Homo sapiens: one gene and its partners. The protein of the gene in region 3 purifies or fractionates together with the protein of the main gene of each other region. This does not show direct contact. Each region holds a gene or a part of one and is shown on either strand. Other genes may lie near its edges.

Region 1 (3,500 bases), on a different chromosome or scaffold from region 3:
GAGAGAGAAAGAGAGAGAGAAAGAGAGAGAGAAAGAGAGAGAGAGAGAGAGAGAGAGAGAGATCGATCTTGTGAGGGAGCCCATTCCCAGGATACCAACATTAGTTCATTCATGTTGGTGGAGCCCTTATGACCTAAACACCTCTTAATGGTCTCACCTTTTAGTGTGGTACAATGGCAATTAAATTTTAACATGAGTTTTGGAGGGGACAGCATTCAAACCATAGCATTTGGCAATTGTTAACTCCTCAAGCCTTTTACTGTCTTTCTCTTCTTCCTAAATTATAAAAAAAGAAAAAGAGTCTCAAAAAAATTATAAAAAAAAAGAAAAAGAAAAGACTTGGTATTTTGGTAGGGATTAGAGGTAGCGATTTCTTGTGTTGATGTTCATTCAGTGTCTATGTGTATCACCCATGAAATTATCTGTTCATTTTGCATGTTACTCAAATATACTGTGTGATATTTTAGCTACCACTTTTGTCTATTAATCAAAATAAGATCATGTCTGGTCAATGTAGGACAAGAACTTACTAATTATATCTTTCCTAGAAAAATATATTGTAAAATATAAGAGGGACTATTAAATGGCTTTATGAAATGTGCTTTGGCTTTCAAAAGAATAATGATGAGAAATTATGTGTCCAGTTTGAAAGATTTAATTGTAATGCATATTTGTTTCTTTAGCATTTGTGGGATCCAACATCTGGAACGAATAGGAAAGAAGCTGAATCTCTTTGACTCCCTTTATTTCTGCATTGTGACGTTTTCTACTGTGGGCTTCGGGGATGTCACTCCTGAAACATGGTCCTCCAAGCTTTTTGTAGTTGCTATGATTTGTGTTGCTCTTGTGGTTCTACCCATACAGGTAAACAAAACCATCTTATATTGCATAGAAATGTACAGAGACATGAAATTGAATCCTCCACATTTAATAAGAAATGGAAAGTGGCTTATTTATCTAACACTAATTTACTAACACATACTATCATTACATTTAATCAATTACATAAATTACTGCAGAAATGTCATTTTACATTTTATTAGAAACACCGAGTTGCTTTTTTTTCCTTCCAGTCATGACTGACAGCACTCATCTTATTTCAATCATTCAAGATTTTTTTTAGTATAGGGTACTTAATTATATTAAATATAGAATAACATAGTTTTTAATTATAGGATGATAGATCAAAGAAATAAATTTGTGAAGGGTTGATTTCTCTTGGTTCTTCAAAATAAACCACAAAGTCATACACTGCAATGAAGAAAAATCTATTACTTATGTTTGTCAAATAAAATCTGGGCCAGGTGCAGGGCTCATGCCTATAATACCAGTATTTTGGGAGGCTGAGGCAGGTGGATGGCTTGAGCCAAGGAGTTGAAGATGAGCTTGGGCTATAAGGTAAAACCCCATCTCTACAAAAAAAAAAAAAAAAGTCTGAACATGGTATGTAAATATTATGTGGCACTTTGGGGAGTGAGTAGGGAGGTTGCAAAGGGATGGATATATAAATGGAATTAAAGATAAGTAGATGCAATCTCTAACTCTTTCCTATAATAAGCCCTGGCTGCCCATGTGTGGGCAGATCAGAAGCAGGCTATAGGGAAATGCAAATCAAACTTGCATATTCCATTGCAAAACTTTGGCCGCAATGTATCTGAATAGAATACCTGCAAAAATGGCCTTCCTGCTCCGATAAATTCATGCATGTCTTTCTTCCTGACATACCCTCCCTTGCACCTTTCACTTTCCTCCGTTAATGGCTACTGTACAGCTAGAATGTGGCCTTGTGTGTTATGGTAAGAGTAACTCCTATTGCATGAGATATGGTTAGAATTTGACAGAGAATGTGGGAAAATAGCAATGAGGCTTTTCTCTTTCACTCAGCTCTACTGGACATAAAGCAGAGGTACAAACCTCTTAGTGGCCTGTTATTATGTGATAGCAAAATCATGTTAATATGTTTCCTTAGAGACCCGAAGCCCCTGGGAGACATTTGCAGCCTCTGTAGAAATTATATGAAAAGTCTGTCGTTGAAGGGGAATACTGACAATTAGAATCTCAATGAGTTCCATCTAGGAAATTGAAAATACCTAATAAACAATAGATGTATTGCATTGATTTATTTATTTCCTTACTGTGTTTTTCATTCACATGTGGAAAATATATTACAGTTTGAACAGCTGGCTTATTTGTGGATGGAGAGACAAAAGTCAGGAGGAAACTATAGTCGACATAGAGCTCAAACTGAAAAGCATGTCGTCCTGTGTGTCAGCTCACTGAAGATTGATTTACTTATGGATTTTTTAAATGAATTCTATGCTCATCCTAGGCTCCAGGTACATTTGGCTTATATTATGTGCTATACTGGATCATACCTACTAACATATTGTCAAAGTCAATTAACTGATGGTGCAGCCTGCTTTGTGGAGGATTTTTATTTATACAACCAAATATAGAAGGAGTAAATGAAGAACCACAAATATAACCAGGAACATAGAAAAAAAATGCTGGAGGAATACTCAGTATTTTAAGTTTCCTTCTGTATCTACGCTGAAAGACAGATGGAATAATGTTAATGCTACAAGAAAATTTTTCTTTGAATTAAAAGATTGCTTTTTCTCCCTTGGGTAGAGCATAAATGATATTTTTATGGAACAGTGAATTTTAAGATAAAATATAATAAAACAAGAAAGAAACCATTTCAATATCATCTGCTCAGTTAAAATACTGCAGAATTTTATCAAGGATTGCTAATGGAAATGTGGAAGTCTGGGACTTTCATTTTTTTCTTTTGTTTCCTGAAGTATAAATATATCCTATATGTATAGCAATACATGACCAAAAATTGGACAATAACTAGCTGAATTGAGAATATGAATTAAGAAGAAACTTTTCTTTCTGTCTATGCAGATAAAATTCTTGAATATTTCCACTTTCTGCTACGGGCCATGGCATTAATCTCCTTTCCTGCTTACTGCACTTAGTCTGTTGAAGGTCTTGTATTTACTCAACAAAGTTTTGTCAAGAAGTAGAATAACTCCAGACTTCAAGACAATGCTTAGTATTTCTAATTATCCTTTCCTTACAAAACATAGAAATATTGATTTGTGAATATTTTGTAGACCTTTATAAATACTATATTTTTGTGTTTTAAAACACCTAATTTATAATTGATTCTTAAATGATAGAATCATTTTGTTCTATCTTAAATGGCAGAATCATTTGGTTCTTATTCTTTTGTTTTCATATGTTAACTTGCATTTTTAATAGCAACTCCATACTTGTTTTTTTAATTATTTATATTTAATTAATTTCAAGCTTACTTATCATAACTCATAAAGGAAATCCATTTGTGGGAAAATTTTGATCCCATGGTGTATTAGCCTGCTCTCACACTGCTATAAAGAATTACCTGAGAGAGGATAATGTATAAAGAAAAGAGATTTAATTGGCTTACGATTCCACAGGCTATACTGGAAACATGTCTGGGGAGGCCTAAG
Region 2 (3,500 bases), on a different chromosome or scaffold from region 3:
CAGATTTCTAGGTCCCATCCCTGAGCTTCTGATTCAGGTTCCCCAGTAATGCTGCTGCTGCTGGTCCTGAAACCACTCTTTAAACCATAGTACTAGTCTTAGACAGTGAACACTTGAATGCCATCTTGGAAATGTCCAGCCTGTGACTTGTAGTTGATCTCAATACTGAGCTTGACCCAATCACTTAATATAATAGGTGTATGGTAACCTGTATTTCTGCAAAATAAGGTAAAAATACCTAATCCCTCGTTAACATCAGTGTTTTATAATCTGCATCGTAAACAGCATTTTCCCCAGAAAATAGAAATATATATTACTCATATACACAAAATATGAAGGCTTGCTCATTCATTCATCATATATTAATTGTGCCAGTGCTATACTAAGTGCTGAAGATGTACTAATAAGCAAAAAAGAAATGGCTCCTTGCCCTATAAAAGTAAATAGGCAATTACGACGCAAGTGCTTACCACTAGAGTGATAGAAGTACAAGGTATTCCGAAGTCACACAGCAAGGAATTCAATCGTCTAAGGAAATAAGGAATAACCTTCCCTGTCCTATCATTCTCCTTCATACTTAAAGCAACTGAAAAATGTGGGGATTTCCCTATAAATATGCAAGGGTATAGATATTGTTCTCTAGCTCAGGCAGAATAAGTTACTCCCTTTTCTGTGATTCCATAGACCTTACACTCACCTCTATTATCACCTTGTATAAGCTTAGCTTTATTACTTCATCTCTTGCTCACAGTGAGTCCCTTGAAGGTAGAGAATAACTGTTACACTTTTTGGCCCTAGTTCCTATCATCAAGGTGGATACGGAAGAGGAAGGGAAAGAGGAAAGAAAAAGTGATGAGAAGGAGGGAGGTCATTGTTCTTGAAGTAGAATGAATACTTTGTTTTTCCACTACTAGGTGTTAGTGTAAACCACATCCAACCACTTGGTCACTCATTATGACTAACAGCATGCATTAACAAGATGGGTAATGGATGCCATCTGCAACGGTAGAATAGGATAAAATTAATTAGCCCACGTGGGGATAAAACCTGTTACACTACCCTGATTAGTACTATGCTCTAATCAACCCAACTAACCAGTCTTGAAATCAAACGCCAATTTTTGACAACCCACAATGACTAATAATCAGCAAACCTACTCCAGAGAGCCTAAGTATAGTAAAATAGAGGAAATTACACCATTGTACTCATCCCTTAACTGTTTACTGTGGACAAGAAAGAGCCTATTTGCAATCTTTAGTGCATCATGATCATTCTAAGAAAGGATAGAACCTACTAATTGCATGAAGAGGATATCCCCCTTCTCTCTTTAATGTTAGATGGCATGTAAAAGGATTTGTTTTTTATTTAATTAACTGGTTACTGCATCAGTCTGATAGATCAGCCTTACAGGGTAACATAATCTAAAATTTTGATATATGGCCATGTTTACAAGTAATAAAAATAAAAGAAAAATCATAAGATACCTGGGCCCACAATGATTTATTCTGGGTTGATAGTGAACAAGGCTGATTTGATTCATTTTTCTGCCAGAAGGAAGGAATCGCCCATAAAAACACAAATGAGAGTAGGCTGGTAAGTGGTGGGTGTTTCTTTTGCAATACTATTAGCAAAGAGAAGCAGAGCCAACAAACAGAAGTAAAATGAAACCAGGTGATTCTTACTTGTAGAGGTCAGGTTGAGGCTGTTCACATTCAATTGCTGCTCGGAGGGTATCGATGGATTCTGCTGTACACAGTGCAATGGTATCACGTACTGCATAATGTGTCTAGTTGAAAGCAGAAGAAAAAGTGAAAACCAAAAAAACTTTCTTTTCATAATCATACACCCAACTGATTTCAGAAACAAATTTAGTTTATGTTTTAGTAAGAGGCTTTGGCAGAATAAACAAATATTAACATTTCCCACTAATAAGTTTTATGGTATTATTATGAAAATATATTACAAATAATTAGAAAGATAACCTGCCGCAAGGAGGGTTTCAAAGACAATTAAAAACCTAAAAGCTCTTCTTGACATGGACAGCTGAGAGAATTCTATTCACAACATGCATATAATTAACTAAAACCACGTGAAAAAGTTAATACATTTATTTTTTTTCCTATTTACAGAACTGAGACTTATTATTTTGCTCACTATAGTGTATGGCAATGGAGATATACACATATGAATTGAACATAACCTTTTTGGTCACAAAAATGCTAAAATTTTGCCAACAGCAAGAAAAAAATCATTAATAGTTCCATTACACAAATAGCTTAATTAATGATCTTGAAAATGTTCAATATGGATACATTTTGTACAAGGGGCAGGGAGATGACGTGTCTTGCATTAGTCAGATAATTAGAATATTCTACTAGTGTATATTATGCACTTGATTCATCCAGAACTCAAGGCAGGCGCCAATGAACCCACTTATAAATCATCAAACAAGGGTTAAAGCAGACTCAAAGAGCGCACCACTTAGGCAGAAGGGAAAGCTGTTGTCGTCATCTTGGGGGAAATATTACGGCAATGTCTGAACTATATTTAAAACTATCTCCTGATTTTGAAAACCTCTGTACTTTTAGCTGATTTGATCAGAACAACTTAACTGAAAAAAGAAACTATCTGAAAGTTTTCTTACTCCAAACAACTTTTTCACTATCAGGAAATCTTTATGTAGATTTCTTGATTTATATCTTGACATTCCCTAAATTATAACTTTGTTTTTGAAAAGGTTAAAAGCAGGTCATTACCATGCTTTTGAAATACAGAATTAGTCATCCAACAGGTAAAGGTTCTTTTTTACATACTGAGTCGTAGTCCTCAACTCCAGATGGAATAAACAAACAGAGGAGCCCTCCAAGGACATACCCAGAGGTGAGCCACATGAGTAACCCTCCTTAAAGGCAGCATAGAGAGGATACATCTTCATGCCCTGTGGAGCTCTGGACCATGGCCAAGAAAACCGACTGTGCCAGAAAGTGTATGAGGGAAATAAGTTACCCCCATTTGGCCAAATTTACTTTAAGTCACTTGCAATTATAAATGAGTTATAATTTGTTATATGTACATAAAATGTTGCTTTATAACTTACTTATAAAGCAAACATTTTCCAAACTACACCCTATCTTTTTTTTTTTTTTTTTTTTTTTTTTTTTTTGAGATGGAGACTCACCCTGTCACCTAGGCTGGAGTGCAGTGGCGTGATCTTGGCTCACTGCAACCTCCATCTCCCGGGCTCAAGCAATTCTATTGCCTCAGCCTCCCGAGTAGCTGGAATTACAGGCGCCCACCACTATGCCCGGCTAATTTTTTTGTATTTTTAGTAGAGACAGGGTTTCACCATGTTGGCCAGGCTGGTTTCGAACTGCTGAACTCAAATGATCCGTCTACCTCAGCCTCCCAAAGTGCTAGGATTACAGGCGTGAGCCACCGCACCCAGCCCTAAGTATTATTTTTAAATAGCAATCAAATTACTCCAGGTTGGGTTTCCTACA
Region 3 (3,500 bases):
CAACTCCTAGAATTACTTCTTTAAAACGAACTTTTGACAGTGTCACTTTCCATTCTAAAAATACCTTAACGATTACCTTTTGTCAGGCCCATGTGGCTCTCAATTAAACTGGTCCTTTACTCCTGTCCAGCTACATTTCCCATCACTCTGTGCCTCAGACATCATTCATATTTCTCCACAGAGGATGCTGTTTCTCTACCCTATGCCTTTGTACCAGCTTTTTCTGAAGTACGTTTCCCCTTCCCCATTTGACTGGCTTACTTGTACTCATTCTTTATATATTTTTTACGATTTTTTTTGTATGGAGTCTCACTCTGTTGCCCAGGCTGGAGTGCAGTGGCGCAATCTTGGCTCATTGAAACGTCTGCCTCGTGGGTTCAAGAGATTCTCCTGCCTCAGCCTCCCGAGAACTGGGACTACAGGTGCCTGCCACCATGCCCAGCTAATTTTTGTATTTTTAGTAGAGATGAGTTTCATCATGTTGGCCAGGCTGGTCTCAAATTCCTGACCTCAAGTGATCCACCCGCTTTGGCATCCCAAAGTGCTGGGATTACAGGTGTAAGCCACCGCACCAGCCTCTTACTCATTTTTTAAATCGCATCTCAGGCAGTAGCTCCTCCAGCCCCTTTTCTCTAAACTTTGGCTTGTGTTAGGTGTCCTTCCTTGGTGCTTCTAAAAGGCACTTTGCTGATATCTGTAACCACACTTAGCATATTACTGAATAATTATCTAAGTCCCTCTCTACTTCTAAACTGTGAAATCCTTGAGGGCAGAGACTGTCTTATTCGGCTTTGTATTCCCGTTACCCAGCATAGGGTCTAGCAGTTGCTCAATATATGTTGTTTGAATGAATAAATAAATGAGGTATAAGGGATGCATTTTTGATTAGTGTAACCCTTTATATTAGGGAAGATGTTTTCTCTAAGAGGCAGCTTGCAATGACACTGAGCCTGGGGACTGGGAAAATTATATTTGGTAAGGAAAGAAAAGTAACTTAATCTCCCTGGACCTCAGTTTTCCCATTGATGAGATGATTATGTTCAACAGCATGATTTTGTTCATCCTTCCAAGTTTAAAATATTGTCTGCATCCTGGACATATTTGGCACTGTATGGAGATATTTTGGTTGCTGTAATGAAGGAGAGTGCTACTGGTATCTGGTGGAAGTCAGAGAAGCTGCTAAACATTCTATAGTCCATAGAACCAACCCCACAAGAGAATTACCTGGTGCCAGATGGGAAACTCTTGTCTTCTTCACTTATTCTGCCTTTTATTTTAAATTACTGACAGATACTATACTATATGACTATTGTTTTTATTGCCTCTCTCCGACAAGAAGTTAAACTTTATGTGCAAAGGAAGACGTTTTATTTGTTTAGTAATTATGTGTTGAGTGAGTGAATAAATGACCTAATGGTAAGATATAACAGTGCTTCGAAATTGTTAGTTAAAAGTTATGACAGATCATTTACCCTTCTTTCATTTCTTATTTACAGGACTGGAGAATTGGGAAACTTGATAGCCCCTTGTAATGCCAATTGTAACTGTTCGCGATCATATTATTATCCTGTCTGTGGAGATGGAGTCCAATATTTTTCTCCCTGCTTTGCAGGCTGTTCAAACCCAGTTGCACACAGGAAGCCAAAGGTAGCTTATGTCTCCTACTTTTCCCTTAATGAGGCAATATGTTTGTGGATTATCTTGACTTCTCTAATGGGGTTATGCAATGCCTATTCTTGCCTTCCTGCTCCATTGCCTCCGTTAAGCAGCCCATGATGTCTCCAGCTGAAATAGATTCTTTTTCCTTCATGCCTCTTGCAGTTATTGTTGAAAAATCAATTTGGAAGTTACAAACATTTTAGTAACATCACTTTGTTGCAGTTATGAAATATCTTTTACCTTTTCAAATTGTTTTATAGTCATCCCTCACAATACATGGGGGATGGGTTCCCGGACCCCTGCATATACCCAAATATGCCATACTTAAGTCCTGCCGATGGCCTTGAAGAACTCGCTTTAAGTCAGCACCTCAGTATATATGGGTTTTGCATCCTGCGAATACTGTATTTTTGATCCATGTTTAGCTGAAAAAAAAAATCCGCATGTAAGTGGAGCAGTGCAGTTCAAACCTGTGTTGTTCAAGGGTCAATTTTATTTTTCCCTAACTATTTAAGATCTTTGAAGGCAAGAGAGTTTTCCTATTTTCACTAGGTACAGTTTATATAATAGAAACTTAGTATTTGTTTTATTTGATATACCATGAATACACTTAAAATATTCAAATCAATTTATTTTTAAATACAAATTCATATTTAATTCTGGATCTGAATACTAATCAGTGTGCCTAGATGTTATTTCTTTTCTGTACAGTTAAATAGTTTAAAAGAACTCAGTACAATTTTACTGTACTATATCTTAGAAACTAAATATTTCATCTTAGCTAAACTTAAGAACCTTGGAAATAAATAATATTCAGATTATGAGTAGTACGCAGTATAGTATGCATTGGTAGATAATGTGATAACTTTAAAAGGATCTAAGGGAAATATATACTGTGGTATAAAAGAAAACAATGAATAAGATGTGTAAGAGTTATATGACAATTTTGAATATTTGAATTTTTTTCTGTATATATGACCAATAAATGCTATTGACTAACTTTGATTAGAAGCAGATTATGACAAGGAGTTATTAGGAAGGGTTTTAGTCACATAACTAAATATATATAGACACAAATACCATCCTGCACAAGGGAACAACACAGAAAATCTAATACCCAGAGCATACTTAAAATAGTTTTTGTTATTTCGATATGGTTAATTTAATATTTATATTTTTCACCAAATGCTAAGATAATTACTATCTTACACAGCAAGTTGTCTTCTAGAATTTTTTAGGAAGAGCAAATGATTTTGACTTGCAAATTTTCTATTTGTCCTGACTTTTTTATGTCCAATCAGTCCATGAAATAATCAATTGATCCACAATATTTTTCTTATGAAATATTTCAGATAGGCAATATACATTTATAATACTTTTAATAAGCACCCATATACATTTGTTCACAGCAATACAGTTTTAATCTTATATTTCACACCAGTGACCCAAACTACAAAATCTGACCTTGACTAACTGCTATATTGCAGGCAAATGAGAGTGGTAAAGTTTCATTAGGATAGAAAATACTGTTCTCAGTTTCTCTCCTTAAAATTTTTAAAGGCTGAATTACCTCATTATTTGATATATCTGATTGCTGAATATGTAATAGTCAATTTTGGAGGTGTCATCTGCATATTTGGTTTTCCTGAATTGGTACCAGTGGTCTTAGAATGGCTTTAGCACCAAAAAAAAAAAAAAAAAAAAAAAAGTTTCTGGCCTTTGGAACAATGAAAGCACTGCTTCTCTTTGATTTCTCTGGCTCTGCTCTGATTCGTTGAGGCCTTAATGTCTAAAAAAGATTTATAGTAAGGATAAAGGATATGGAAGGATGGAGTTGAGAT
Region 4 (3,500 bases), on a different chromosome or scaffold from region 3:
AGTTCTGTCCCTTGCTTTTTCTGTTATGTAAACGTGCAGACCTGTGATAACAGAGCCATTTTCTCGTCACGATTTGCTTTTCTTCCACAACAGTATCAGTTTTCTTGTATCTGAGATCAGTGATGTCCCAATAAATCAGATGGGTTAATTGAGGAGGCAAAGGAAATTCAAACTTAGGAGAGTAGGAGTAGGGGCTTTGCCCCTGCCCCCCACTGTATGTCCAAGGCATAAGGAACAAGGCCCTGTAGCAGAGTCTCACAGTGTGTACTTATGTTAATATTCAATAAGGAAAATGCCACAGGAAGTAATCACTATAATGATGAAGATTTTAAGTTATTAAACACACCTTCCAGTAAAAACCTGTTATATTATTATTATTTTTGAGACAGGATCTCTCTCTGTCACCCAGGCTGGAGAGCCGTGGTACAATCTCGGCTCACTGCAACGTCCGTCTCCAGGGCTCAAGTGATCCTCGCGCCTCAGCCTCCTGAGTAGCTGGGACTACAGGCACTCACCCCCACACTGAGCTAATTAAAACAATTTTTTTGTTCTCGAGACAAGGTCTCACTATATTGCCCAGGCTGGTCCCAACCTCCTGGGCTGAAGCCATCCTCTTGCCTTAGCCTCCCAAAGTGCTGGGATTATAAGCGTGAGCCACCGTGCCAGGCCAAAACCTGCTACTCTAAACTTGTAGAATAGCCCAGACCTTTTTCTGTTGGTTAAAAGATCTCATTCTTCCTGGGTATTATGTTTAGGCAAGGTATACTGCAGTTTGTTTGCATTTACTTTAATTCTGTCCTTGAGCAAACTTAAAGCAGTTTCTCAGCGTCAGCACTAGTGATATTTTGGGTCAGATAATTTGCTGTTATGGGGGCTGGCCTGTGCATGGCAGCATGCTTAGCAGTGTCCCAGACCTCTGCTCAGTAGATGCTAGTCGCACTCCCTACACCCAGTTGTAACAATAAGAAATGTCTCAAGATGGGGGCAGTTGTCCCCCAAGGGGTAGAGGGAATTGCCTGTCATTGAAAGTCCCTAATTTAGGGAATCTAGAGCTACAGTTCCGGTTTGGTCACCACTAGCCATATTTGGCAGTTTACATTGAGATTAAAATTAAACACAATTTAAAATTCATTTCCTCAGTCATGCTAGCCACATTTCAAGTGCTCAGCAGCCACATGTGGCTGATGTCTGCTACACTGGGCAGCACAGATGTGGAACATTTCCATCGCAAAGAAGGTTCCACTGGACAGTGCTAAGAGCTGGCAATTCGTGTTTTTTTTTTGAGATGGAGTCTCCCTCTGACGCCCAGGCTAGAGTGCAGTGGCACAGTCTCTGCTCACTGCAACCTCTGCTTTCCGGGTTCAAGCGATTCTCCTGCCTCAGCCTCTCAAGTAGCTGGGATTACAGGCACCCACCACCACACCTGGCTAATTTTTGTATTTTTAGTAGGGATGGGATTTCACCATATTGACCAGGCTGGTCTCAAGCTCCTGACCTCAAGTGATCCACCCGCCTCGGCCTCCCAAAGTGCTGGGGTTACAGGCATGAGCTACTGTGCCCAGCCAATTACTTGTTATATCTAATTCTCATCTCTGAAAGAGGCAACTTTGACCCTGTTTCTGACCTAAATCAGCACAACTCAGCCCATTTTTGGTTCTTGAACTCATCCTGAGCTAAGTGTTTCTTTCCTGCTATTTGGGACTGATTTTAGAAAATTCTTTGTCACCTTGCTGTTATGCTAGAGGTTTATAGCAGCATCAATGGAACATTCCTGATCATTACTTACTGATAAGGACTCCGAGAATTTCTATTCCTGCTCCTTCCTTAAAAAGCATGAGAAAAGAACCCCTGTTAGGCAAGGTTGAAATGACCAGTTTCCGTGTATGGCTTTGTAGATCCCACTCTTTTATATAGAATGAGAGGAGATGAGAGGCTGTAATTGTAGCTTTCATATAAAGCCAATTCCAATGTTACAATGTGAGGGTTTTGCATACAGATGCATGGTGGCTATGGCTGTAAATGATTATCTAATACTGGCTGTCAGGGAAAACTGATGGGACTCGGCCATAGTACAAAGTTCCTGATCCTAGATATTTATGGCTTTGTTCATTCTTGATTTATTCAATTTTGCAGGGGAAGTCAGTGGCAGAGCTATTGATGGTCCCATTTCCGTCTTTGCTCCACTATATCTAGGATTATATGAGTTATAGGTAGAAGTTGGTTGAGCTTGATTTCATCTGTTGTCACCTAAAGCAGAAACCTGTTTTGATTTATAATTTTTTTTTTTTGAGACGGAATCTTGCTCTGTCACCCAGGCTGGAGTGCAGTGGTGCGATCTCAGCTCTATGCGACCTCTGCCCCACTGCAACCTCTGCCCCCTGGGTTCAAGCAATTCTCCTGCCTCAGCTTCCCGAGTAGATGGGATTATTTTTGTGCCACGCCCGGCTAATTTTTGTTTTTTTTATTTTTTATTTTTTTGAGATGGAGTCTCGCCCTGTGGCCTAGGCTGGAGTGCAGTGGCACAGTCTCGGCTCACTGCAAGCTCCACCTCCCAGGTTCACGCCATTCTTCTGCCTCAGCTGGGACTACAGGCGCCCACCACCACACCCAGCTAATTTTTTGTATTTTTAGTAGAGATGTGGTTTCACCAAGTGTTAGCCAGGATGGTCTCGATCTCCTGACCTCCACCTCAGCCTCCCAAAGTTCTGGGATTACAGGCATGAGCCACCGCGCCTGGCCAATTTTTGTATTTTTAATAGAGACGGGGTTTCGCCATGTTGGCCAGGCTGGTCTCCAACTCCTGACCTCAAGTAATCTGCCCACCTTGGCCTCCCAAAGTGCTGGGATTACAGATGTAAGCCACTGCACCCGGCCTTGATTTATAATTTTTATTAATCGAAGGTGAGCTGTGGTCAAAGCCCAATGCTGAGTGCTGACAGAGACACAAGGTGAGTAAGATGTGGCCCCTGCAGGAGGTTGCGTTCTGGTAAGGGAGTATACTTTTTTTTGGACAAATCCTTGTATAGAAAGGGATAAAAAGCATAGGAATTAAGAAACAAATTGTGAGTGCAAGGAGCAAGTGACCAGGAAGGATTATGTGAAAGAGATTCTTTAGGCAGAATATTTAGCTCAGAATTATGCTTTTCTAGAGTTTAATTGTAAATATAATGCAAACCTTTACTTTACGAGTGTGCCTCATATTATTGCTGGTAGATAAAAATCAAGAAACAGGAAAAGCATTTCATCTTTACCTTTCCGATTTGATCGCTCCCTAACAATCCCTGAACAAGGTAAATCCTGAATGGTGATAATCATTCAACCTTCATCTCTGCTAAAAGCATTTCTTTTCCTCCCAGGCAAAAACAAACAGTGCCTGCTGTCTAGCACTAGTTAAACTAGTTAAACACTGCCTATAAAGCTTATCTTAAGGAAGAGTTATAACAGTATCTGCTTCTGTTTAGCAGTTTTCTTTTTGTTCCAGAATAAAGGTGTGATTCCAG
Region 5 (3,500 bases), on a different chromosome or scaffold from region 3:
CCTTCTTCGATCTCCCAAAGTGCTGTGATTACAGGTGTGAGCCACTGTACCTGGCCAAGATAAGGCTTTTTACATTTAAAACATAGGGATAATATGAAACACTTTTATGGTATGTACCACGTGCCAGGCACTGTTCTAAGTGCTGTCCACATCGACTTATTTATTCTCAAAACAACTTTAAGGCCATGGGTACTATTATTATTCCCTTTTACAAAGGAGGAAACTGAGGCACAGAGGTTCAATGCTTCACTCAGGGTCACTGAGCAATAGGTGGCTATCTGGTGGCTGAGCTGGGATTTGAGCCCAGGCTAGCAGGCTCCAGAGTCCCTGCCCTTAATCATGGTGGCTACAAAGGATAATCTTTTAAATTAAATACATTCATCTTTATATAAAACTTTATAAAACATTTTCCAATTTGCCGTAAACTGTTTCAAATGTCTTAACAGACCAGTGTGTTTGGGGCATCACCATTCTAATCAATAAGACACAGGCTTTCCATTTTATTTCCTTCCCGCAGAGACGTCTCCTTCCAAGGCCATGACATCTAAAGCCCTGGTGAGGCTGAGCACCGCTCATGTGTAGATATAAAATGACCCTAACAGCATCCAGACAGCACCTCCGACCTCTTCAGCAGGAACTCACACAGCCCCTCTCCCCTTTCTTTTTTTTTTTTTTTTTTTTTTTTTTTTGAGACGGAGTCTCGCTCTGTCGCCCAGGCCGGACTGCGGACTGCAGTGGCGCAATCTCGGCTCACTGCAAGCTCCGCTTCCCGGGTTCACGCCATTCTCCTGCCTCAGCCTCCCGAGTAGCTGGGACTACAGGCGCCCGCCACCGCGCCCGGCTAATTTTTTGTATTTTTTTTTTTAGTAGAGACGGGGTTTCACCTTGTTAGCCAGGATGGTCTCGATCTCCTGACCTCATGATCCACCCGCCTCGGCCTCCCAAAGTGCTGGGATTACAGGCGTGAGCCACCGCGCCCGGCCCCCCTCTCCCCTTTCTAGTCCCACTCTGTGTAGCCACTTTCTCCTCCAACTTGTACATGAGGCCTCATGGAACCTGCTTTTTCTCCCTTTTGCAACTGGGCATGCCTTTACCTTGGGAGATGGAGCTTCAGCAGGGCTCCAAGTCCTGCTGCTGATGGAGGCATCATCTAACCCCATCTTCACACTGTGCACTGATGCGCGGCACCTCAACCTCCTCATCCTCTAGCCACCCCACAGTGTTGTCGTGCGAATGAATAATTTAATACTTGTGGAAATTAGCACAGAATAGCTCCTATTATCACTAGTATTATTAGTATAATAATACTCATCCTAAAACAGTCTTTTAGGACTGTTGCGCACTCTATTTTCACTTTGGTTTTACGTAAGAGATGTGGTTTCTTGGCTTGAGTATTTTACATCATATGTTTCTGGTTAGTTGTCTATTTAGCTAACTGTGATTCTCTGTTGGCTCACTATCCACAAAGAAGACATTTGCAACACAAGAGTTCTTCTCTAGGCTGGGCTTGGTGGCTCACGCCTGTAATCCCAGCACTTTGGGAGGCCAAGGCGGATAGATCACCGGAGGTCAGGAGTTCGAGGCCAGCCCAGCCAACAAGGTGAAACCCTGTCTCTACTAAAAATACAAAAAAATTAGCTGGGCAGGGGGTGCATTCCTGTAGTCCCAGCTACTCAGGAGGCTGAGGCAAGAGAATTGCTTATACCTGGGAGGCGGAGGTTGCAGTGAGCCGAGATCGTGCCACTGCATTCCAGCCTGGGTGACAAGAGTGAAACTCCTTCTCAAAAAAAAAAAAAAAAAAAAAAAAGAGTTCTTCCCTAACCCTAAATTCCATCCGAACTAAGACAGGTGGATAATCACCAGAAATCTCCACACGTACAGTTGTGGTTATTCCATTTCTATACTTTACTGTTGTGCAAAGCCCAAGTCCAGATCCAGTGTGGGCTCTGTGGAAAATCCCATCTGCATGGGGACCTGGGGCTCCCAACTGTCATTTGTCTTAACATGGGGAGGCTGTGATGGCTGACTGTCGGCCAGCCCTGCTTGCTGAGATAACCAGGCAAGGAAGGCCGTCTTCTACCTGAGCAGGGGATGGAAAGGAGACCCCCACCCACAGCACAGGGGCTGGCCCCAGAAAACGACGGGGCTGTCACCCCAGGGGCTGCTCACCGGTCTCCCCAAAGGGCAGGGCTTGCTCCCATGGCCTGAACTGTGCCGCACTCCCTCTGTGTGATGGTGGAAGAATCGTGGACCTGGTGTCAGGCTTGGGAACACTGGGTGCTGTGTGACTCTGGTCTCTCAACACTTTCTAAGGGCCTGCTTCCTCCTCTGAGTCAGGATTCGTCAGTCCTACCTCACAGGCCGGATGCGAACATGGAACAAGGCCACGTAGGTCGAGGGCCTGATGCACTAGAGGTGAGAGGAGCAGGTGTTCGGCCTCCCTGCTGCCCACCTGGCATTTATGCTTTGGAGTATGGCTGCTGCTCCTCACGGCAGAAGGTACCTGATAGTGGTGGTGTGAGTGTGTGTGTGTGTGTGTGTGTGTGAGAGAGAGAGAGTGTGTGCCTGTGACAGAGATGGCTCATTCATAGGAGCAGCCAGGCCCTGATGAAGTCCTTGCCTTTCTTTCTTTCTCTGCCCTGCTTCAGGGTTAGGAAGGAGGCCAGCAAGGGAGCTTGACCTAGGGGACCAGATGCCTGGGTGCTGTATCCCTGACGACTGTCTTTGAAGCCAGGTATCCTTCAAAATATGAGGTAAGCAAAGGATGCATGCAAGTAGAAAGGTCATGCTGCCGATGACAGAGATTACCGGTTGTGAGGAAAAACTCACCTGAAATTTATTAGTAGAGTTAAAAGGGATTTCAGCTACTTTGCGGTTTCTTTTTCTAATTTCCATCACATCACCCAAAATGACCTCTGAGAATTTTAAAAGAGCAGTTTCTGAGGCATCTCCAATCACAGCTTTCTGGGAATCAAAGAAGAAAAATATTTGCAGCACATATTTAATGAACCAACATGCCCTCAGCATAGGACCCAAAACACACCCTCCTGATCCCATTACCACCTAGCTGGAGAGACATTATCACGTGATCAGGGAGGGCCGCAAGACCGTGGTAAGCGTGTAAACAACAGTGCCACCTACTGGCATTAGGGATGTTTGGAGAAGCTGGACCTCTGCGAGGACTGAAGATTTCGTGGAAAAAAGCAGCTACGAACTAGATCTTGATAGATAGGTGGGTTACCGATACACAGAGAAGAAAGCCTTCCAGAAACCAGGATGCGGGTGCAGGGGCATGAGGGGCAGGCTCGTCCGTGAGTGTTCAAGGTACAAGCGGATGTGGAGGGTGTGGCAAGACCTGGAGGGCCCTGAAAGGTAGCCTGAGGTCTAGACTTGAGAAGCAGAAAACAGGGAAGTACGGAGAGATTTTGAGCAAAGTTAAGTGACTATAAAAGCACCATTAAGGGAAATTAGTGGCATTCGAGAAAGACCCCAGGAGGGAT
Region 6 (3,500 bases), on a different chromosome or scaffold from region 3:
GTATCATTCTCTTTCTCACTCAGTGTGGCCCAGAGTTGCTCAGAATTGGAGCAGAGCCTGAGACGTATCTGCAGATCCTGTCATCAGCTGGCAAGTCCAGGAGACTGTGTCATTTAGAGACTGTGTTGTTAGTTATCCCTCAACATCTTCTAAGGTGGCAGGAAATAATATTGGAAATAACATTTTAAAGTAAAAATTTTAAAGTTTAAAGAAGAGTTTTGCCACTTAAACAGGGGAGCTTTGTCTGGAAAATACACTGAGTTGAAACACTTCATCCTTGGAAGGATTATATAAGATGAACAGTTGTGATAAATGTGTAGATTAGAGGGATGTGAATGGGCAGTTAGTCCAGTGCCCTCATTTAAGAGGCCAAGATCCTGATTCAGAGGAGGCATCCTTTGCCCAGAGCTGCTTAGCTAATCTGACCAAATGTTGGGAAAAATGTCTCACCTAACCCACTATTCCTTAATTATGGATTTTGTGAAAAACAATAGAACATGTTAATGAGTAATTTATATTAGTTCGATGTATTACAATTTTTTAGCTTTAAATTACAGTTTTCTTATAATGTTGAAATGTTTTAGAATCCTTTGAATCTAAGTATTTGTTTCCTAAATGAAACATTTGTACAACATTTGATGTTTTTACTTATGAAATATTCTCCTCCCCCAAGAAAATTTAAACTTTTTCTCTCTATTTAAAAGCTAAGAAATGTTTTAAAGGAAAAATGAAATTATCTTCCTTTAGCTTATTTTTAAGGTAAAACAGCTTTTTACTCTGTTATTGTGGTAATGGACAGAATATTACATACAAAAATATTCTGGGAGAGCTTTTTCCTAGTTGGTTTTAAATCATTGTGCCACCTGAAAGGTTTTTAGATTTTATAGGAGCTAATTTGTCCACCAGCATTAATGTAACACAGTGTAGTTATGAAAATATATTGAAGGACAGGAAGTGGACACGAAGTGATTTTTGTAACCTGAGCAGTTAATGAATGTGCCAACATTTTCTAGGAAGGGACAGCAAGAATATTCTGCTCTGTAGTTAAAATACTGGCTGGCTTTTGATGTCTTCATGCTTAATTGTGATCACTTTCTTGCACTGTGATGTTTTTACGTGAATATGTTGAAGTAGAAGTCTACCATATTATTTTATAAAATGTTTTCTGTATGGCAATAAACTGAAAACATGGATCAACCCTTCTTTTGAAAATAAACTGAGTCAATTTAGCCTTTTAAAAATATAGTCATCTCTTTTAAATAGAATCCTCTTCCACCATCAAGGCTCAACATTTTGTAAGCATCCAAAAAATTGGTAATTAGGGGGCTTGCACTAAATTTCACTATCTTCAGTAGAGAGGAACTGTTTGGAACTTAGATTTCCAATGTGTATATTCTAATGGAGAAAGCAAGAGGTAGAGTTTGTATGTTTGACTTACCTTAGATTTTTATTTTCCATACATACTGCAAATGATTGACTTGTTGCATAAATGAAGATCTTCTGTTGTGTGCTTTTCAAACACTGTAAATAAATTTGAAATTTGAATAACTTTCCACAGTATAACTGTAAAAAAAAAAAAAAAAAGTCTTAATTTAACCAGCATTACCCTCTGCTTGTACCAATTGAATGGCAGAACTACTATAGTCAAAAATAAATTCCTATCCTATTTTTAATTGATGGGATATAGGCAGCACAATTTCCCTTCATTGTTGAAGCCAACAAGTTCCGTAACAGAACTCCAGAGGTAAATAGCTGGGAAAACTGTTAGTTTTAAGGTCCCACTGTTGCTCTGTGAATGACTAATCAGAGGAAGCCAAAAATCAGCCAACTAATTTCAGTTTATGTCTTTAATTGTGATGTAAGTGTGAAGTTTCTACATATGGGTAATCAGGGTTGAGTTAGGTAGTTTGCAAACATGACTTTTGCTGGAGGAACTTTTAATCATGTCTTATTAATTTCTGGTCCCAATAATTAATTTTCTTACAGTCAAACCCAATGCACTTGAAAAATAATATAATTAATACTGTGTGAAGAATTTTTTGCATGTTAAAAAAAGCAAACCACTAGTTTGCTTAGTTCTGGCATTCATAAACTACTGTACCTTCTGTTCTATTGACATGTTTGGAAAAAAGAATTGAACATATGTACCACCCCCCTCTTTCTAGAGTCTCCACAGTTCTTTAGCAATTGCTAACCATAGGTTTTTAATAGCAAAAGACAAGATTGTCAGTTTTTGGTGCAAAACTCTACTCTTTTTGGTTGACTTGGAAAAGCTGTTGTTTATATTGGGAATTGTGACAGCTGTCTTTTACTTTGTTAAATTAGCAATTATTTAGCAAAAATACAGAGTTTCACCCCAGTAAAATAAACTTCCACGTGAGAGTTGTGTTCATTCAAGGGTTATTTTTTGAGAGTGGAAGTACATTTCCTGCATTTGTCACAGATAATATCAGAAATTTTGTTGTTTTGATTAAAATGTTGCCATCTACTTATAAGTTAAAAATGCTGAGAAGGTTTTTTTTGGAAACAGTTTATGAGGCCAGGACATTTTTAAGTTTGACTCAAATATAAAAAGCCACAGTATTCTTGCCATGGTTTTGTACTTAGATGTCTCTCATTATGGAATTCAGAATGTGACAGTTATAGTACTACATGAAAATACTTAATATAGAGTTCTACAGTTACAGTATTGCATGAAAATACAGTATGGTATGAAATTATTTGTCCAAAACTGTACTCCAGAAATGGAGCCCATATGATTATATAACTATAAAATAGGATGGGACAGAGAAAAATATGTCTGTATTACAGCATAAACATATCTGGTTTAATATGAACTATTTCTTTTCATCTCTTTACTCTCAGTATCTCCATAATGGCCAGTATGTAGTAGGCACCTGTAATTGTGAAGCAGCCTCATTGTCTGGGGTAAATACCAAGGTTCTTGGTCTCATGGCCAAGGAGATCGAGGTCGCAGACACACACAGTTTGGAGCAGGAGTTTAATAGGCAAAAGGAAACAGCTCTGTTACAGAGAGGGGTTCCGAGCAGGTTGCCAAGTTGTAGTAAAAATGTCAGGGTTTTTATAAATGGGCTAGTGAGGAGGGGGCTCATGAGGAGGGGATATCTTATCCTCCTAGGGTCCGAGGACGCTTTAGTTGGGACCAGGTGTGCTATCTGTACAGAGCATAGCTTTTTATCAGCTCTTATCCCATTCCTTGACCACATAGGCTCTTAGACTCTTATTCTATGTTGTCTTCGTCCAGCTTATCTGGAAGGGAGAGTTTCTCTGTCTGTTCCCATACATCTTGCAGCTGCAGGCATCCCCCCGGTCTGCTTTTAGCTTCCTTATCTTAGTGCCCCTAAAGGGAAAGGAATGTGCTTATTAAGGGCCACTGTTTTACTGGGGTTAACTGCATGAGGTCAAAAAGAGCTATATTTGAGCTGCTGTTTGTTAAAAGAAAAGTTTTCTGCCGGGGACTCGCTTTACCCTGTCTACCT
Region 7 (3,500 bases), on a different chromosome or scaffold from region 3:
ACACTTCATGAACAGACTTACTGCATCCTCTTCAACAGATGGAGAGACCAATTGTGGAATATATTTTCTACCTGAAAAGCACTATCTTTTGTGAGGCTTAGAGTGCCAGTGCACTGGCTGCTTTCCAAGACCTTGTACAAGCGTAACTTACTATTAGCCCAAGCCAAAGTAGGGTGTGGTAAATAGTCTATGCTTCATTCTGCTGGTGCTCCTACCCAGCAGTCAAGTAAAGCTTATCTTTGCTGCCCATGCATTGCTGGAAGCTCCAGATGTCCATCATCGTGTGCTTTCTCTCTTGCCCAGCCGTGAGCCTGAGGTTCTATTTGTTTGCTTGTTTTTGTTGTTATTGTTGGTTTTGGTGGCGACAGTGGTGTATTATTTTGTTTTTTCTAACAACACCAGTAAGAAGGTACATTTTCCTCATTTAAAAAGTCAACTAAGATAGAAAAAGCTAGAGTATCCCTTAATACTACTCCCAATTTAAGAATTTTGTTTTTAGAACTCATTCTATCAGAATAGGAGAATTTTCAAAGCCTTTCCTGAGTGTGATGCTGGGAACCAGCTGGATTGTGATGGAATTTCTAAATTCAAGTGTCTACTATGGGAGATACGGCTGTTCACTAGTAAGGGAAAGGGATAGAGTTCTTTGAATGGGGATTCTTAGAGATTTTTCCATCGTAAAATAGAAGTGACCTTGTGGAATTTTAATCCAGAATACAGGATAGATTGTATGGGAGTCTACAATACAGGATAGATTGAGGGAATGGTTAAATCTGGGAGCAGGTGGAGAACAGAAAGAGCTAGTTAAATGAGCCATACAAATTCATTTCCCCCACTGATTTGTTTCATTTTTGTGGTTCTTTTTAGACTGGACTATTCAGGGATTGCTCTTCTAATTATGGGGAGCTTTGTCCCCTGGCTCTATTATTCCTTCTACTGCTCCCCACAGCCACGGCTCATCTACCTCTCCATCGTCTGTGTCCTGGGCATTTCTGCCATCATTGTGGCGCAGTGGGACCGGTTTGCCACTCCTAAGCACCGGCAGACAAGAGCAGGTAGGTCGGAAGATGTACGTACACCTCAGAGGTATTTAGACCTTAGGCCTGATAGGCTCAAACCTATTTGAGCCTTAAGGTTTGCAGCTTGAGAACCCCACCCAAACCCTGATTTGTGTTTCAGAACTTTCAAAACAGCATCAATTTCAAAGCTCAGTTCTCAACCCCCAGTGTCATACTATTTCAGTAGAATGCCAATAGGACAGATCATTACCCAGCTGGTCAATTAACTGCAAGCACAGATGTAGCTACTCTTATACTTGGTTTGTGACAGTTTAAAAATGTAGCAAGCACAGTAATTTTAGTGACCCGAGTCCCAAGCTCAGACCAAGGGATTAAAATTAAAACACTCAGAGGCATTTTACTAAGGGAATGGAATACCTGGTTTGGTGAATGAAAATACCTTGAGCATAAACAGGTAACAAAGTAATAGCTACAAGCATAAACATCTTTGTGTTGTCTCATCTCATCTGGACTCTTATTTTAAGCTTTTATTACTTGCAGCAACACCACCAATTACCACTAGTCTTTAGTCCCTTTACAATTAATATCTGCTATGTTTTAACCTTCAGTTAAAATAATTAAATATTGTCCGGGAGCAGTGGCTCACGCCTGTAATCCCAGCACTTTGGGGGGCCGAGGCAGGCGGATCACTTGAAGTCAGGAGTTTGAGACCAGCCTGGCCGACATGGTAAAACCCTGTTTTTATTTAAAATATAAAAATTAGTCGGCGTTGTGGCAGGTGCCTGTAATTCCAGCTACTTGAGAGGCTGAGGCGGGAGAATCACTTGAACCTGGTCGGGGGCAGAGGTTGTAGTGAGCCAAGATCACGCCACTGCACTCCAGCCTGGGCAACAAAGCAAGACTCTATCTCAAAAAAAAAAAAGAAAGAAAGAAAGAAAAGAAAAAAATAATAATAATTAAATATTTATCAAGCACCAGCCACGTGCCATGCACTGTGCTTAAACAAAGGTATTTACAAAGATGGAGAGGTGGTCCCTGCCCTTCAGTTATGTGTAGTGTAATGATGAGACACATACCCATTCTTCCCTTGCTCTTGCCTTACTTGTGTGTCCCAGCAGCTACAGGATAACTGCTAATCTGGGTATATCTGTCTACTCAGGAGGTCAGAGTTCTGGTTATGTAAGACTTTTATGATCTTAACAGGAAGCCTATCCTATGCTTCTCTGACTTGGGAGGCAACTGAAGCCTTGACATCTAAGTTCTGTACCCAAGTTAGCCATCAGAGAGTCTTGACATACCATTTTTACCTAAATTCCTTAACAGATAATGAAGAATATGAGATCTTTGTTCTTGGTGCTTAAAAGGTAGTAAGCACTTACACAGCTTCTTCCCATTCAGGACATAGAAGAAATATCTGTTGAGTGTTATCCATCTTGTAGCTAAGTTTCCTAAACATGTACTATTCATCCAAAAATAGCTAATTATCATAAACATTGAAATTCCAGAGTAAGACAGCAGTGCCTTCCATGCGGTGGCTGTTTCCTTGTTTGACAGTCTTATGTCTGTTCTGTTCAGGCGTGTTCCTGGGACTTGGCTTGAGTGGCGTCGTGCCCACCATGCACTTTACTATCGCTGAGGGCTTTGTCAAGGCCACCACAGTGGGCCAGATGGGCTGGTTCTTCCTCATGGCTGTGATGTACATCACTGGAGCTGGCCTTTATGCTGCTCGAATTCCTGAGCGCTTCTTTCCTGGAAAATTTGACATATGGGTAAGAAATGAATCTTCCAGCAGGTCCTGTGATGGTGAGTGAACAGCCCAAAGTTAAAGGGCTGAGGAAAAGGTGGTATGAGACTGGGATCATATAGTGTTTGGAGGTACATATATGTGCATTGAAGGTAAATCATCAATATTAACATTTTGGTGTATCTCTGACAAGGACTGTGTTTTTAAAACTTTCTAAATATACCACTTTAATGTTATTAACAAATTTGTTTAATTAAGGATAAACTAGAAGAAGCAAATGCTTTCTCCTACTTGTTTCTTATTCCTCCTTGCATTATCCTAAAGGCTCTTTTCTTTTTATTCCTACAGTTCCAGTCTCATCAGATTTTCCATGTCCTGGTGGTGGCAGCAGCCTTTGTCCACTTCTATGGAGTCTCCAACCTTCAGGAATTCCGTTACGGCCTAGAAGGCGGCTGTACTGATGACACCCTTCTCTGAGCCTTCCCACCTGCGGGGTGGAGGAGGAACTTCCCAAGTGCTTTTAAAAATAACTTCTTTGCTGAAGTGAGAGGAAGAGTCTGAGTTGTCTGTTTCTAGAAGAAACCTCTTAGAGAATTCAGTACCAACCAAGCTTCAGCCCACTTTCACACCCACTGGGCAATAAACTTTCCATTTCCATTCTCCTAGCTGGGGATGGGGCATGGTCAAACTTAGCCATCCCCTCCTCAGCAAGGCATCTACCGGCCCCTCACAGAGAC

What was found.
Region 1: the proteins of SLCO4C1 (region 3) and KCNT2 purify together in Homo sapiens (affinity purification with mass spectrometry; one large-scale study listed by BioGRID and IntAct). This does not show direct contact.
Region 2: the proteins of SLCO4C1 (region 3) and ATP11C purify together in Homo sapiens (affinity purification with mass spectrometry; one large-scale study listed by BioGRID and IntAct). This does not show direct contact.
Region 4: the proteins of SLCO4C1 (region 3) and PDXDC1 purify together in Homo sapiens (affinity purification with mass spectrometry; one large-scale study listed by BioGRID and IntAct). This does not show direct contact.
Region 5: the proteins of SLCO4C1 (region 3) and ATP12A purify together in Homo sapiens (affinity purification with mass spectrometry; one large-scale study listed by BioGRID and IntAct). This does not show direct contact.
Region 6: the proteins of SLCO4C1 (region 3) and PDK1 purify together in Homo sapiens (affinity purification with mass spectrometry; one large-scale study listed by BioGRID and IntAct). This does not show direct contact.
Region 7: the proteins of SLCO4C1 (region 3) and ADIPOR1 purify together in Homo sapiens (affinity purification with mass spectrometry; one large-scale study listed by BioGRID and IntAct). This does not show direct contact.

The regions. Positions count from the first base shown.
Region 1 is NC_000001.11:196,426,941-196,430,440, reverse strand, and holds part of KCNT2 (potassium channel subfamily T member 2), read left to right. Parts: intron 1-683; coding exon 684-864; intron 865-2,171; coding exon 2,172-2,336; intron 2,337-3,500. UniProt on the Homo sapiens protein: Sodium-activated and chloride-activated potassium channel. Produces rapidly activating outward rectifier K(+) currents. Contributes to regulate neuronal excitability.
Region 2 is NC_000023.11:139,800,554-139,804,053, forward strand, and holds part of ATP11C (phospholipid-transporting ATPase IG), read right to left. Parts: intron 1,787-3,500; coding exon 1,683-1,786; intron 1-1,682. UniProt on the Homo sapiens protein: Catalytic component of a P4-ATPase flippase complex which catalyzes the hydrolysis of ATP coupled to the transport of aminophospholipids, phosphatidylserines (PS) and phosphatidylethanolamines (PE), from the outer to the inner leaflet of the plasma membrane.
Region 3 is NC_000005.10:102,247,785-102,251,284, reverse strand, and holds part of SLCO4C1 (solute carrier organic anion transporter family member 4C1), read left to right. Parts: intron 1-1,496; coding exon 1,497-1,647; intron 1,648-3,500. UniProt on the Homo sapiens protein: Mediates the transport of organic anions such as steroids (estrone 3-sulfate, chenodeoxycholate, glycocholate) and thyroid hormones (3,3',5-triiodo-L-thyronine (T3), L-thyroxine (T4)), in the kidney.
Region 4 is NC_000016.10:14,978,026-14,981,525, forward strand, and holds part of PDXDC1 (pyridoxal-dependent decarboxylase domain-containing protein 1), read left to right. Parts: intron 1-2,857; exon of another isoform or gene 2,858-2,948; intron 2,949-3,500.
Region 5 is NC_000013.11:24,693,908-24,697,407, reverse strand, and holds part of ATP12A (potassium-transporting ATPase alpha chain 2), read right to left. Parts: intron 2,965-3,500; coding exon 2,830-2,964; intron 1-2,829. UniProt on the Homo sapiens protein: The catalytic subunit of a H(+)/K(+) ATPase and/or Na(+)/K(+) ATPase pump which transports K(+) ions in exchange for Na(+) and/or H(+) ions across the apical membrane of epithelial cells.
Region 6 is NC_000002.12:172,597,590-172,601,089, forward strand, and holds part of PDK1 ([Pyruvate dehydrogenase (acetyl-transferring)] kinase isozyme 1, mitochondrial isoform 2 precursor), read left to right. Parts: 3' UTR 1-3,500. UniProt on the Homo sapiens protein: Kinase that plays a key role in regulation of glucose and fatty acid metabolism and homeostasis via phosphorylation of the pyruvate dehydrogenase subunits PDHA1 and PDHA2.
Region 7 is NC_000001.11:202,941,313-202,944,812, reverse strand, and holds part of ADIPOR1 (adiponectin receptor protein 1), read left to right. Parts: intron 1-867; coding exon 868-1,055; intron 1,056-2,594; coding exon 2,595-2,788; intron 2,789-3,111; coding exon 3,112-3,240; 3' UTR 3,241-3,500. UniProt on the Homo sapiens protein: Receptor for ADIPOQ, an essential hormone secreted by adipocytes that regulates glucose and lipid metabolism. Required for normal glucose and fat homeostasis and for maintaining a normal body weight.